3 separate regions of the Homo sapiens genome follow, and regions 2 and 3 are each linked to region 1. The links come from fine-mapping of genetic effects on gene expression. A gene starts in region 1. Each other region holds a variant in brackets. All regions are shown on one strand. Distances are from middle to middle. Region 1 holds the start of CDH22 (cadherin 22). Region 2 has its middle 21 kb from the start of SLC35H1. Region 3 overlaps CDH22 (cadherin 22).

Region 1 (4,189 bases):
GAAGAATTGGAAATAACGGTAGAATGAGCCTGAAAATAGGAAACATTGGGATAGGAAAACCTGAGGGTCTAATAAAGAGTCATGGGGAGCTGGGTGCAGCAGCACATGCCTGGTGTCCCAGTTACTTGAGAGGCTGAGGCAGAATGATCACCTGAGTCCAGGAATCCAGCCTGGACAACATAGTGAGACCCCCATCTCAAAAAAAAATAAAAATAAAAGAGAGAGAAGAGAGAGACCAGAGCAAAAGAGAAAGATGTGACAACAGTTCATTCAATAACATTTATTGAGCACCTACTGTGTGCATGCAGATGTGACAGCAACAGTGTCCCAGACCAAAACAACCTGTGGACAACTAAGTAGGTCTGACTCCAGAGATGAACAGCACACACCAGAGCCTGGAGGAAGAGGCAAAGAAGGAATGGGAACTGGAGCAAACAGCAAAAGTGAGTCAGAGCGGGAGGAGAGAACCAAAAGTGAAGAGATGCACCTGGAAGGCTGGCCTCTGGTCTCTGAAAGCATGAAAGAGTGGAGGCTAAGAATAGAGAGGAGAGGGGAAGAGAGAGATGGAGAAAAGGAAGGCGATAGAAAGGCAAGGCTGGAAGAGATCAATGAAGGGAAATAAACCAAGAGAAGGACGTAGGGGAGGGAACAGACTGGCACAGTGGAGAATACATCTCAAAATAAATAAATGAATGATGGAGTTTAGTAGGAGGGGCCAGAGGGGCAGCCAGCAGGAGAGGTGATTCCAATCATCAGCAAGACGGACTAGGGTGTGGAGATGGAGATGGAAATTGGGGAAGGAGGCGAGGAGGAGAGAAGGATAGGGGCGAGGTAGAGCTGGGGGTCCTGGAGGGCCCTGCCCCCTCTTTGCCATGAACTTCAGCAGCTGCTTGTGGGTGATTAAATGGCTGGTCATTGGCAGCTTGGCGGGACAGAGGTCTGCAGCTGTCCAGTCTCCTGTTATCCTTCACTCACCTATCTGGAAGCCATGGGGAATAGGGGGGCGGGCAACTCCTAAGGGGACCTACAACCCAAGACAAAGGGTGGGTCTATGGGAGTCACTGGTCCTATCCTACCATCAACGACCTCATATTGGGAACTCAGGAGTGGGGTGGGAGGGTCTCCTCCATTAGGCCTCATCCCAGAGAGATGAAGTAGTAAGGAGAGCCAGGCAGCCAGGAGAAAGAAACAGGGCCAGGTGGAAAAAACATCAGGGAGCAGACCAGCCGGATTTTTAAAAGAACGGAAAACCCAACCAGCAAGGAGTTTCTGGGCAGTGGGAAGATTTTATTGGGAGACTTCTCCAGGTCAAGGTGGCACCAAGTTAAGGATGGAGGTGTCTTGTTTTGCCTGCTTACTTTGTTGGTTGCAAGGATGTCCAGCGGGACTCTCCAGAGGAAAAGCCCACAAGTTTCTCTCCCGGGGACACCCGACCTCCCACCTGCCTGGAGACTCAGCCCTGGGCACCTGGTCGGTGTCCACCTCAATGCACAGTGACTGTTTCTGAACTGGCAGATCTGGTCTGTGCAAGGTGCCTTTCTGGGCAGCAAGCCGGGGCGGCCACTGTTCGAGAAGCCTGCTCCTACCCTGGCCTGCGCCCCTGCTCCTCTGAAGGCGGCCTCCCGCAGTAGTCAGGGGGCGGAAATGGGAAGCCCTATTCGCAGTAAAATCAGGTGGGGAAATAGGCTCTGGTCTCAAACTGCGGCCACCTGGGGAGCTGCCAGGCGAGGAGGTAGATGGTCCCCCTCCTGGGGGCGCTCCCTTCGCGCGGATCTGGGGTTGGAGGAGGGAGGGGCACTGTCCCCTGGGGGGTTTCCTGGGACTGGGCCGCCCGAGAGAGGGAAAGGCTGTCCCCTCCTGGTGTAGGAGGGGCGCGATCCGGGGGGCGGGGGCTGGGGTTCCCCGGCTGCGGGGGTCCGGGCCGGCGGCCGCCTGCGGCTTGGCGCTGCGCGGCTCCTGCCCGGCGGGCCCTGCATTCTCCGAGTCTCCACCAGAGGCTGCGGGAGGAAGGAAGGGATCCGTCCCTTGCACACTTCCCCCCAGTCAGACACGCACACTCCCTCGCTCCCGCTCGCTCGCTCACTCCCTCGCTCTCTCGCTCTCTCGCTCTCTCGCTCACACACACGCGCGCACACGCCGCCGCGGCTCCCCCTCTCGCTCCCGCTCTCCCTCCGGCTCCTGCGGGCGGCCGCGGGGCTCCGGACTCGCCCGCTGCCCGCGCCGGGGCTCCCGCCCCACGCAGCGTCCCGAGGCGGCAGGACTAGGGGGAGCCCCGGGCCGCTCCCCGAGGTAAGAGCGCGGGGTGCCGCGGGAGGAGCGGCCGGATCGCCGCCGAGGGGAGGCTGCCCGGCAGGGAGGGAGCCCCCTGGCCGGCGGGAGCGGCCGGGCAGGCGGCGCGGGGGGCGAGCCTCCAGCCGCAGGAGGAGCCGGGGTGCCTGCGCCCGGCCCTGCGCGCCCCCTCCTCTCGGCCGGGAGGGCGGGGAGGGAGTTTCCCACGTCCAAACTTTCCCCGGCGCGGAGCCGAGCCGCCTCTCGGCCCGAAGCCCGCAGCTCCCACCCGTCCCCACAACCTCGTCCGCCGCGCGCCCGGGAGCCTCCGGGACCCCCGCGGGCCGAGGGGTGGCAGCGCCAGGGGCCGAGCCGGCGCGCCAAAAGGGGCTGGGAAGGTGGCGCACAGCCCTGACGCGAGGGCTGGGACCCAGGCGTTCCCGGTCCCCCAACCCTGCTAGCGGGGCTCGGCTCCCCGGCCCCTCCCAGAGGCGGGGTCCGGGGCCGGGAAAATACCGCACGGCGCGAGCGTGTGCGCGCGGTGTGTGTGTGCGAGGTCGTGCCGCGTCCGGGGACACCCGGAGGCTGACTCCAGCCGCGGCGACACGCACGGTTCTGGTCCCCTCTGAGCCGGGGAGGCGGCCCACAGGGACCCCTGCCGGCCCCACCGGCGCGACCCCCCCTGCCCTATGGCCGTCGGGCGGGCTGGCGGTGAGCGAGAGCCAGCGCTGCTCTCTTCCTTAGGACCCGACTCCGGAGACACCGTCCCCGCTGGGGAAGAAGGACGGGGCCCCCGACAGCCTAACGTCCAAAGAGAGCGCCACTTAGGGCTAACCCTCGGGGGCCGCGGCGTTTACTGTGAAGAGTGGACTGCGTGGGCGCGCGGGGTGCCGGGCAGCCCTGGGTGGGCACAGTGTGGACCCGTCTCGCTCGCGCCTCCCCGCTGCCTCTTCTCTGGCAACGTCGGGCCCTGTCCCAGGCGGGGCTGCAGAGGGTAGGGCTGATCCAGGATCCCCCGAGGTCTCCCCGAGGTGCAGGGCACCCCCTTGTGGCGGGCAGAGAAGCTGCTGTTTGAAGCTGCTCAGGTCTTCCGAGGTGCTCGCTCCTTGGAACCTCTTCTCTCCAAACCCTTCGGGCGTCGCCAGGGTTGCGCATGCCAGCTTCTTTTTCCGTGGGGCTGATTCCAGCACTCCCCAGGTTTCTGGGGCTGGCCGAGGTGCCCCCAGCACAGGCAGCGGCTCATTTGAGGGCTTTGGCTGTTGCCAGCTCTCTCTCCCTCTCCACCCAGGTTCAGGATCTCATCCTCTTCTCCCACTGGTCAGCGCCAATACCCTATATCAGCATCACCACTGCCCTAGGGCCCAAAGGCTCCTCCCTAACCACCGCGACTCTCTGTCCTTCATTTGTATCCCGTATATGTGTCCATCAGTGCCCACTCCGTCCCCCTCAGTTGCCCCTAGTCTACAGCCCTTGTTGAAACTTGGCCTCTACACCCATAGTGACATCCTTTGGTCTTTGCCCACCAATGACCATTTCCTCGTCCCCCCCAACCCCGACCCATCTTCTATCCTGTCTGCCTCAGTTTTTCTGTAGCACTCAACTGTTCCCTGCCCCAGCCATTTCTCTACTTCACCCTTATTTCCCTCCTTGTCCCAGTGTCTGGGACACTCCTCTTCCATTCCTCCTGGAAGGGAAGGGCATTGCCAACATTTAAACACTGCTTCCTGGAGATGTCTGTGTGCCCTTCCCGGTCCACCACTGCCAGTGCCTCGGGGGCAGGTACTTTATAAAGCCAGCCAGGTCTCTCTCAGCTAAGGGGCACCTGTACCTCTTGGGTGGCCCCATCAGGGGACCCCTGGAGACAACCCCTTTCCCTATTCCTAACTGTGAGCAGCACATTGGAGACCACCTGGGCTGCCCT
Region 2 (4,189 bases), 35 kb before region 1:
AGCAACTGAGGAAATAAGTCCTTCACTCCCAACCGGAGACCTGAACACCACATCACAGTGTCTACCACAACCAGGGTCCACAGTCTGGCTTCAGGGATGACCAGGGATCTCTGAAGAGGAAAGCAGCATCCAGCATGTGTGTGCATTTACATGTTTTTCTGGGAGACAGTGTCCTTGACCCCCAAAAGATTAAGAATCATTGGTCTATGGAAAGCCAGACTCATTCAAAACCGTGTGATCAGAGATGTACATGGTAGTTGTTCAACAAATATAAAAGGACGGATGGATGGATAATCGATGGATGGGTTGGTGGATGGCTGGATGGGTGGATGGACAGTTAGGTAGATGGATGGAGGGGTAGATGGATGAAGGATGGATGGATGGATGGATGGAGAGATGGATAATGGATGGATAGATGGATAGGTTGATGGATGGATGGGTAGATATATGATGGATGGATGAATGGGTGGGTGGATGGATGGATGGATGGATGATGGATGAATGGATGGTAGATGGATAGGTGGATGGATGGGTAGATGGATGATGGATGGATGGTGGATGGACAGATGCCATAATAGTTGAATGTATGGGAGCCACAGGAAAGGGAGCAACCGTCTGGGTCAGGAGGAGAGCAGACTTCCAGGAAGAGCTGACCCTTTTGAATTGAGTCTTGAAGACTAAATAGAAGTTTGCTAAGCAGACAAAAGAGGCGTACCTTGCAAGGGGAAAGCAGATGCGAAGGTGCAGAGATGTGCGTGAGCTTGAGGTTGGTGTGTTTGGCTGCTGTAACAATTTGTTCACCCGTGGCTGGCCAGAGGTGCACATGGGGAAAGAGGAGGGGGAGCGGGGCTACTGATCCATCTTTGAAAAGAGGAGGTATCCTGATAGGATTGTTCCATCATGTTATTTTGAACAAGTAAGTAGATCCTCTCCCCGCCCCCTAACAGTCAACAGTGGTATCTCTAGCATGAGGAGGGGGAAGAGGGAGGTCCTAAAATAATTTCATGCGAGTAAAGAGCATTGGGTCATTTACCACATCCTTTTCCATGCTTGAGCTCCTTAGTCCTGCAATCCACCCTGGGAAGCTGTTGGTTCTGAACAGCCCTGCTTTCCAGATATGAAACAGGCTCAGAGAGGCCAAGTGACTTGCCCAAGGTCACTCAGCTCTTTAGCCACCAAGCAGACAGCCCTATAGCCCAGCAGGGGCTTACACCTCCCAGAGCTCAGCAGCCCTGTGGTTGGGATGGCAGGCAGCCTCACTACCCTCCTGAGATTAGGTTACTCTGGCTAGGGACAGAAAAGGTGGCCCACTGTAGGGGGCCCAGGGCCTGGCGGCATCCTGCTGGCAATATTTTGCTTTGCGAGGAATCCCCCACTGAGCCCAAGCCTCCCATCCTGTTCCTGGGCTGCCCCATGAATTAAACATGCCCCCATGGTTAACTCAGTAATGCTTTTATTAATAGTTAATTACTCAACGTGCACTGGGGAAATGAGACTCACTCAGGCCTCGTAAATTAAGGCAGTGATCTCGTGAAGGAAGCCAATGGGAGTTCATTACCCCAGCCCCTTCCGACATTGTACCTCTGGGCTTGCCATTTAGCGGTGCTAAACGAGATGCGCTGGCGGGGGCAGGAAGGGGGGACGCGGGGACAGGAGCCTTCTGCAGGGGGAGGTGGGAACTGGAGGATGAGTGTCCACCAGTTTCCTGGGAGAGAAAGGGCCCTAGGAGATGGGGCGGAAGCATCAGCTAGGAAATGTGATCCCTGCACCTTGGCAGCTTGTCATCTGCCTGTGTTTCCTGTCACTGCTAGGGACTCGGCACAACCTCCAGGGATTCCCAGATGGGGCAAGGCCATCTGTCTCAGGTGTGGGACTCCCTCACCCCGTCTGGGCCTGGAACCGGCCCTGCCCCAGCCTCTGCTGGTGGCGTCCCCCCTCGTGCAGCCCTTCAAGCCCTGGGTAGGGAAGAGCAGATCCCTCCTCAGAGTCCAGGGCCCTGGCCTCCCCTACCCCTGCTCTCTCATTTCACAAATGTCGAGACTTCCCCTTCTAGTTTTTGTTGTGTCTGAAGCCAATTTCCCATCCTGACTGTGCTGCCGAGCTGGATAAGGGGCTTGCGCTAACCTGGTTTCGTTTTTCTAAATTTACCTTTCTCCCAGGTTTTGTTTCCCAGGAGACAGAATCCCCTCTATTTATCTTCCTAGGAGAAGACAGCCAATGTCCGCTTTGAACCTACTATGTGCCAGGACCTGTCCCTGTGGGTTATGTTCGTTGGCTTTAGTTTCTAGCCATGTGACTCCACCTCCCGGGGTGTCT[G/A]TTTCTTCATCTGAAAATGGAGATGATCATAGGACCTGAGTCTGGAGTCACTGTGATGATTAAACGGAGTGGTTAGACACTGCCCAAAACATGTCAGCTCTCTCTACGGGGCAGCTGTCATTACTTGCTTCTTCACAACAGTGCTGCCAGCTGGAGACCGTCCCCATTCTACAGATAAGCAAAGTGAGGATTTAAATACCTTCTTTGAACTTGCCTAAGGACACACAACCCAGAACTTCATGTTGCCAAAGTTTATCATGTTCCTTCCTTAGAGGCGAAGTGGGGCACCGATCCCCACTCTAGGAGGGCACACTGGCCAAGCCTGGGAGCCAGGAGAGATCTGCCCATCTGTCCTTGAGTCACAGGGTCTCACCAAGGCAGTGTAGGATGAGACGCAAGGCCCTGCAGTTGGGCTGGCCCAGGTCCAAATCCTGCCATACCCACTGGTCATCACTTTAACCCCTGGAACCTCAGTTTCCACTTCTGGAGGAATGGGCTTGAGGTAGCACCTGGCTCCGTGGGCGGCCATCAGGGCTTCCGTTTGGAAGTGCCTGACATCTCGTAGTCAGCTTTCAGAGCTCTCTGCACCTGGGCTGCTTTATCTGTAACTGGGGATAACAAAAAACGTCTCTTGCTGGATTGTGGAAGACCCTACAGAGATAAAGGGCACCAATCTGCCTTTTGAGCAGGCAAATGTAAAACAGGTGAGCTGCTGGTGCAGAGGTCAAGGCCCCTCAAAAACAGTTTAGCAGAGCTGCTGGGGGTTAAACACTGCCTGGGTGGATGAGGTGACTGCTGGCTTGATGAGGGCTCTCATGGGTCCGTGATGCAGAGGGTTGGGGACGGATCACCACCCAATGTCCTCCTCAGCTCCCAGCTGCTTTGCCAGGCAGAGGTCAGCCTCTCAGCTGTGACTCCCCAGGACTGCCAGAGCCACAAGCGGGCAAGAAGTCTGGGGTGGGAGATTGAAGCCTCCCCGGTTAGGGAGCACAAGTCGTGAAGGAGTGCGGCTCGGGGTTCATATATAATATGTAGCATCAGATTTAAATGTCACTGCTGCAGGCGGCTGACCCGGGTCCAACACAATGGGCCGCAAGGGGCAGCGCCACCGCCTCTTCATCTTCCTGGCGGTAGCTGACCAAAGGGAGGGAGATTTGGTTTCTTAAAAAACTAAACAGTTGTTGAGCACTCTGGCGTTGCCTGGGCAACAACTGAGGGGGAGAGAGAAGCATCTTATTGTTTAAAGTTATTCTTGCTCGATTTCAAAGGGCTGCTCTGAAAAGACCACATTCTCCAAGCAGCGTGGCTGGTCCTCTCCGCCGTCCCCGCCATGCCATCCCAGCTCCTGCCCTCCCTCAGCCCCCATCCCCACTTCCCAGCCTGAGGCTGCAAAAGGGGTTGTAGCTGTGCTGGACATCAGGGCGCTGGAGACAGCCTCCCTCATGCGCTCTGTGCGTTCATCCGCAGGGCAAGCAGAAACACAGAGACAACACGCCGTGCTACTGCAGCCACCCCCGACCTGGACATGTGGGCACAGGGGCACTGTGGTGCTTGGTGACTTAGGGGTCAGCTCAGCACAAGTGCCTGAACTTGGGAGTGGGCAGGGAGGGACGGGGGTGTCTCCATCATGTATGTTCCAAATGTGAACATCTTGGTTTTCAAGCCCAGACGGGGGCAAGGAGAAGGTGGCCGTGTCAGGTCATTACTCAGGGGCAGTGGCTGAGTGCAGCCCCATGATCCCTCAAGAGCATGCCAAGTGGCCTGTTGTCTGCACCCCTCTGCCCCTCCTGCAACGCTGTATTGGAATTGTTTATTCATCTCTCTTACCCACGAGACTGTTAGCTCCCTGACAGCAGGGCTGCGTCTATTCATC
Region 3 (4,189 bases), 110 kb after region 1:
TGTTCATGCACTCACACACAGGCACACCAGAAAGCCTGTATGTGCATAAGCCTGCAGCCTTCCCTATTTATTATGCCTGCATGCATTATATATGCACATATTTATGTAGAGGAAAACCACACGTGCACCCCAGCCAGGAAGCAGCACCCTCCCCATTTTCTCCACCCTAACCTTGACAACAGCAGCATTTTGTGCTGTTGCTAACACAGAAATGCTAGCAGGTGTACCTGGCTGGCTCCTTAAGAGGATGCTGTTAGACCTCCGGCTCTGAACAGACATGGGAGCTTGGCTCTGCCACTAACTAGCCCTGTGTGACCCAGGGCAAGATACCTGGCTTCTCCGAGCCTCAGTTTCCTCCTCTGTAAAATGAGAGTGATGACAGTATCTGAGGATTCGAAGAGCTCATGATACAAAGTCTTGCTCAACAAAGAAAAGTAAGAGCTAGTCTGTACACCAAGAACCATCTTAAGGATTTCTTGGTAGTCACTTGTCCGAACCTCACAACCAGCCTGTGAGGTAGGTATTACTATCTCTGTCTCTCTCTCTTTTTTTTTTTTTTTTTTTTTTTTTGAGACAGAGTCTCACACTATCTCCCCAGCCAGAGTGCAATGGCGCGATCTTGGCTCACTGCAATCTCTGCCTCCCGGGTTCATGCAATTCTCCTGCCTCAGCCTCATGAGTAGCTGGGATTACAGGCACATGCCACCACACCCAGCTAATTTTTTGTATTTTTAGTAGAGACGGAGTTTCACCACGTTGGCCAGGCTGGTCTCAAACTCCTGACCTCGTGATCCTCCCGCCTCAGCCTCCCAAAGTGCTGGGATTATAGGTGTGAGCCACCCTGCCCGGCCTACTATCTCCATTTTTAAGAGAAGGAAACTGAAGAACAGAGAGATTAGGTGACTTGCCCAAGGTCACACATCTAGGTTTCAAACCTAGGCAGATGGGCATCAGATCTGCACCCCTAAGCACCATTCCCAGGCCTCCCTTGCATGTGTGGGTGCACACACACACGAGCTGCCACAAACTCATATTCTCTCCCTATTCCCCCAGCCTCACCTGTTCTAGTTCCCCTTGCTGCCCTTCAGGTTGTTGTCACCAAATGAGAAGTAGGACTGCAAAATTTAAGCAGAACCTTCTAGACCCACAGCTTCCTCCTGTCCTTCTCAGACTACTGTGTCCCTACATCTTACCTCCCCGCCCCCAGGCATGCAAGCCACACACTGGGTTGGGGGGACTCCTGTGTACTCCCTGCCAGACATCTCTGAATAATAATTACAGTGACAATAGTTCCCATTCATGGAGTAATTTTCCTGGAACTCAGCTAGGCACCTTACATGCGTTTCATTCTCCCGACAACTTACAAAGTAGGATTATCATCTCTATTTTGCTGGGAATTAAAGATGGAAGTGACTTGCCTGGGGGCAATGCAGACCTGGATCCAGACCCAGGGCTGAGCTGCTGCCTCTTGAGCCACTGCTCAACTATAATGCACAATCTCACACACACAGGAACACCACTCACATATTCACGCCACACAAAACACACACTGTCCACCCACAACACAGACCAAATACACAACCCATGCGAGCACTACACGTGAGCTGCACAAGCTTCGCCCCCACCCCACCCCTCCACCCCTAAGTTTGCCAGGCCACAGTCCCTGCCACACACTGCTTCCTCCCACCCCTCCCTGCTTCCCTCCCTCCCACTCACTCTCTGGCTCCCTGAGCTGGAATAAAAACACCTGGGCTCAGCCAGCCAAACTGACCCCCAGCCCCAGGTCTTTAGCTAGTTAATGGCGGGTCCCCGCTGCCCCCGCCCTATGGCCTTAGGAACAGCTGCCTCCATTTAGATTCCAGCCCCTCCCTTCCCCTCGAGGAAAGAACAAAAGAGAAAAACAGGG[C/A]AAAGGAGAAGGAGGAAGAGGAGGAGGAGGAGCAGCAGCAGCATGGAGGGAGGAGAGAGGAGACAGCTCTGAGCCAAGAAGGGAGGAGAAACAACAAGAAGGCAGTTGGCATCCTCCCATCAGCCCGGCCTCTCGCCCAGCCCTGACGAGGGATCAGAAGCCCAGGCTATGTCATGTCTCTGGTCCTCTCCTGGCCTCTATCCTCCAACCTGTAGAATGGGAGGAGGTCTCCAAAGTTCTTTCCAGCTGAGCTGATGATGCTCAAGAGCCTCCTTCAACCTCCTTTGGACTCAGATATCTGATGGGGCCAGGCTGGGGCAAAGGGGACCCTGAAGCTTCATGCATCGAGGATTTGGCTGGTTCAACTTTGGATGGGCTGTCGGTCAGGCTAAAAAGAACTCTGGCGGCCGGGCATGGTGGCTCACACCTGTAATCCCAGCACTTTGGGAGGCCGAGGCGGGCGGATCACAAGGTCAGGAGATTGAGACCATCCTGGCTAACAAGGTGAAACCCCGTCTCTACTAAAAATACAAAAAATTAGCCGGGCGTGGTGGCGGGCGCCTGTAGTCCCAGCTACTCAGGAGTCTGAGGCAGGAGAATGGCATGAACCCAGGAGGCGGAGCTTGCAGTGAGCCGAGATCGCACCACTGCACTCCAGCCTGGGTGACAGAGCAAGACTCCGTCTCAAAAAAAAAAAAAAAATTAAACTCTGGGAGAGAATCCCCAATTTGGTTTCAAATTTCAGTTCTGTGACAGAGTCGCTGTACACCCTTGAGCAGGGCATCGGCATCACTAGCTCATTGTCACCTTTGTATAAATAAGAAACAGGCCCCCCTTTGATACTTCCTGGTCTAGGACACGTGGCTGGGCAAGCAGAAGGCTCGCTGGAATTCACCCCTGCTTCCCCACTTCGGCCTGGTATCTTTGTGCATGACACAACCTGCACAACCATACTTGGCAGCTCTAAGCTTGGCAAGTTTCCTCTCTGGACCTCAGTGTCTTCATCTGTAAAATGGGGGAGATCACATCAGCCTCATAAGATGCCTGACCGAGACCTCTTCTATCTCACTTGCCACTTTATCCCCAGAGTCTAGCACAGACCAGCACAGAGAAGGCACTCAATTAGTGTTTAGGGCATAAAGGAATGAATGGAGGGATGGTTGGGGGAGAAGCAGGCTCCAAACTGTTAGGTGCATGCTAGGGAGGAATTATAATCGTGGGTCTGAACCTCCCCACGTACTTTCGCCCAGGCTAGCGGGACTCAAGGTGGCCAGGGGCAAGAAGAATATGGGTTTAGCAGTTTAGGAACAGTATGGAGCATTAAACTGGGGGTTCAGGGGATCGGCTTATAATGCCCACTACACCCATAGGCACATCCCTTTATAGTTTGCCATAGGCATTCACCTCCAGGACAGTAAACATGAAAAGCATAAGGACTGTCCTGTATGCCCGCCCCTCCTCTAACACCACAATGTGGGGTGAGTAGGAGTCATCCTCTTTTTCAGGTGAGCAAACAGAAGCCAAGGAGTGACTTGCCCAAGGTCACACAGGTAGAATCAGTGGCAGAGGATTCAAACCCAGCTCTGACTGCTTTCAGACCCACGAAGTCCCAGTGGGTGTCAATATCCCCATTTCAGAGATGGGGGAGTTGAGGCCCAGAGAGGTTTGGCAATGCAGCCAAGGCCTCACAGACGGGTCATCTCAGGGCTCTGGGCCCCAGCAGGCAATGCTTCTGGGGTCCTCCCCTCCCCACTCTGGGAGACTACAAAAAGGCCCCTTTCCTCCTGCCTGTGGGAGGGGCCGGGTGGCTGCGCAGGGGCCCCTCCTTACCAGGCTGCTTTGTCCTGGCGCACAATGAGCGCTTGCTTGGCATTCGAGGCCTTTGTCCGCGCGCAGCCTCGCGGCGCCCCCACCAGCGTTATCAGCATGGGGAAGCGGAGGCCGGAGCTGGCGAGGCCTCTCTGGGCCGCCGCCGCCCGAGACATGTGTTGGACACGGGCCTTTAAGGCCTGGAGCCGCCACACAAAGGCCCGGGAAGAAGGCGGAACAAAGGGCTTTTTCACGCGGCAACGGAAAAGCTGCAGATTAGCTCGCGCGTGCTGCGCAGGCGGGAGGAGCCGGCGGCCGTGTCCCCAGGCCCCCTCCCACGGCACTCGCCCAGCGCGTGTCCCTGGGCGTGTCCACGCCGCGGCCCCCAGAGAAGCCTCCTAATGCCACAACTGCCCCCCTCTCCCCTGCTCAAAATTCCCCGTTGGCTCCCCAGTACACGCCAACTGTGCTGTG

Evidence for each region. PIP is the estimated chance that this variant, and not a neighbour inherited with it, causes the effect. A credible set is the group of variants that fine-mapping cannot tell apart.
Region 2: its variant is the best candidate, but not a certain one, in a credible set for the expression of CDH22 in skeletal muscle (GTEx, PIP 0.78).
Region 3: its variant is the best candidate, but not a certain one, in a credible set for the expression of CDH22 in tibial nerve (GTEx, PIP 0.85).

What each region holds. Positions count from the first base shown.
Region 1 is chr20:46,306,355-46,310,543 of GRCh38, reverse strand. CDH22 (cadherin 22) reads left to right here and starts at 2,046. Exons shown (of 12, transcript NM_021248.3): 1 at 2,046-2,289.
Region 2 is chr20:46,341,217-46,345,405 of GRCh38, reverse strand. No RefSeq gene overlaps it. Among named protein-coding and RNA genes, the nearest start is that of SLC35H1, 21 kb to the left of the region's middle. The variant G/A (reference allele first, on the strand shown) is at 2,317.
Region 3 is chr20:46,200,775-46,204,963 of GRCh38, reverse strand. The region is part of intron 7 of CDH22 (cadherin 22); the gene reads left to right. LOC124904916 (a long non-coding RNA gene) reads right to left here and starts at 103. Exons shown (of 3, transcript XR_007067611.1): 1 at 1-103. The variant C/A (reference allele first, on the strand shown) is at 1,907.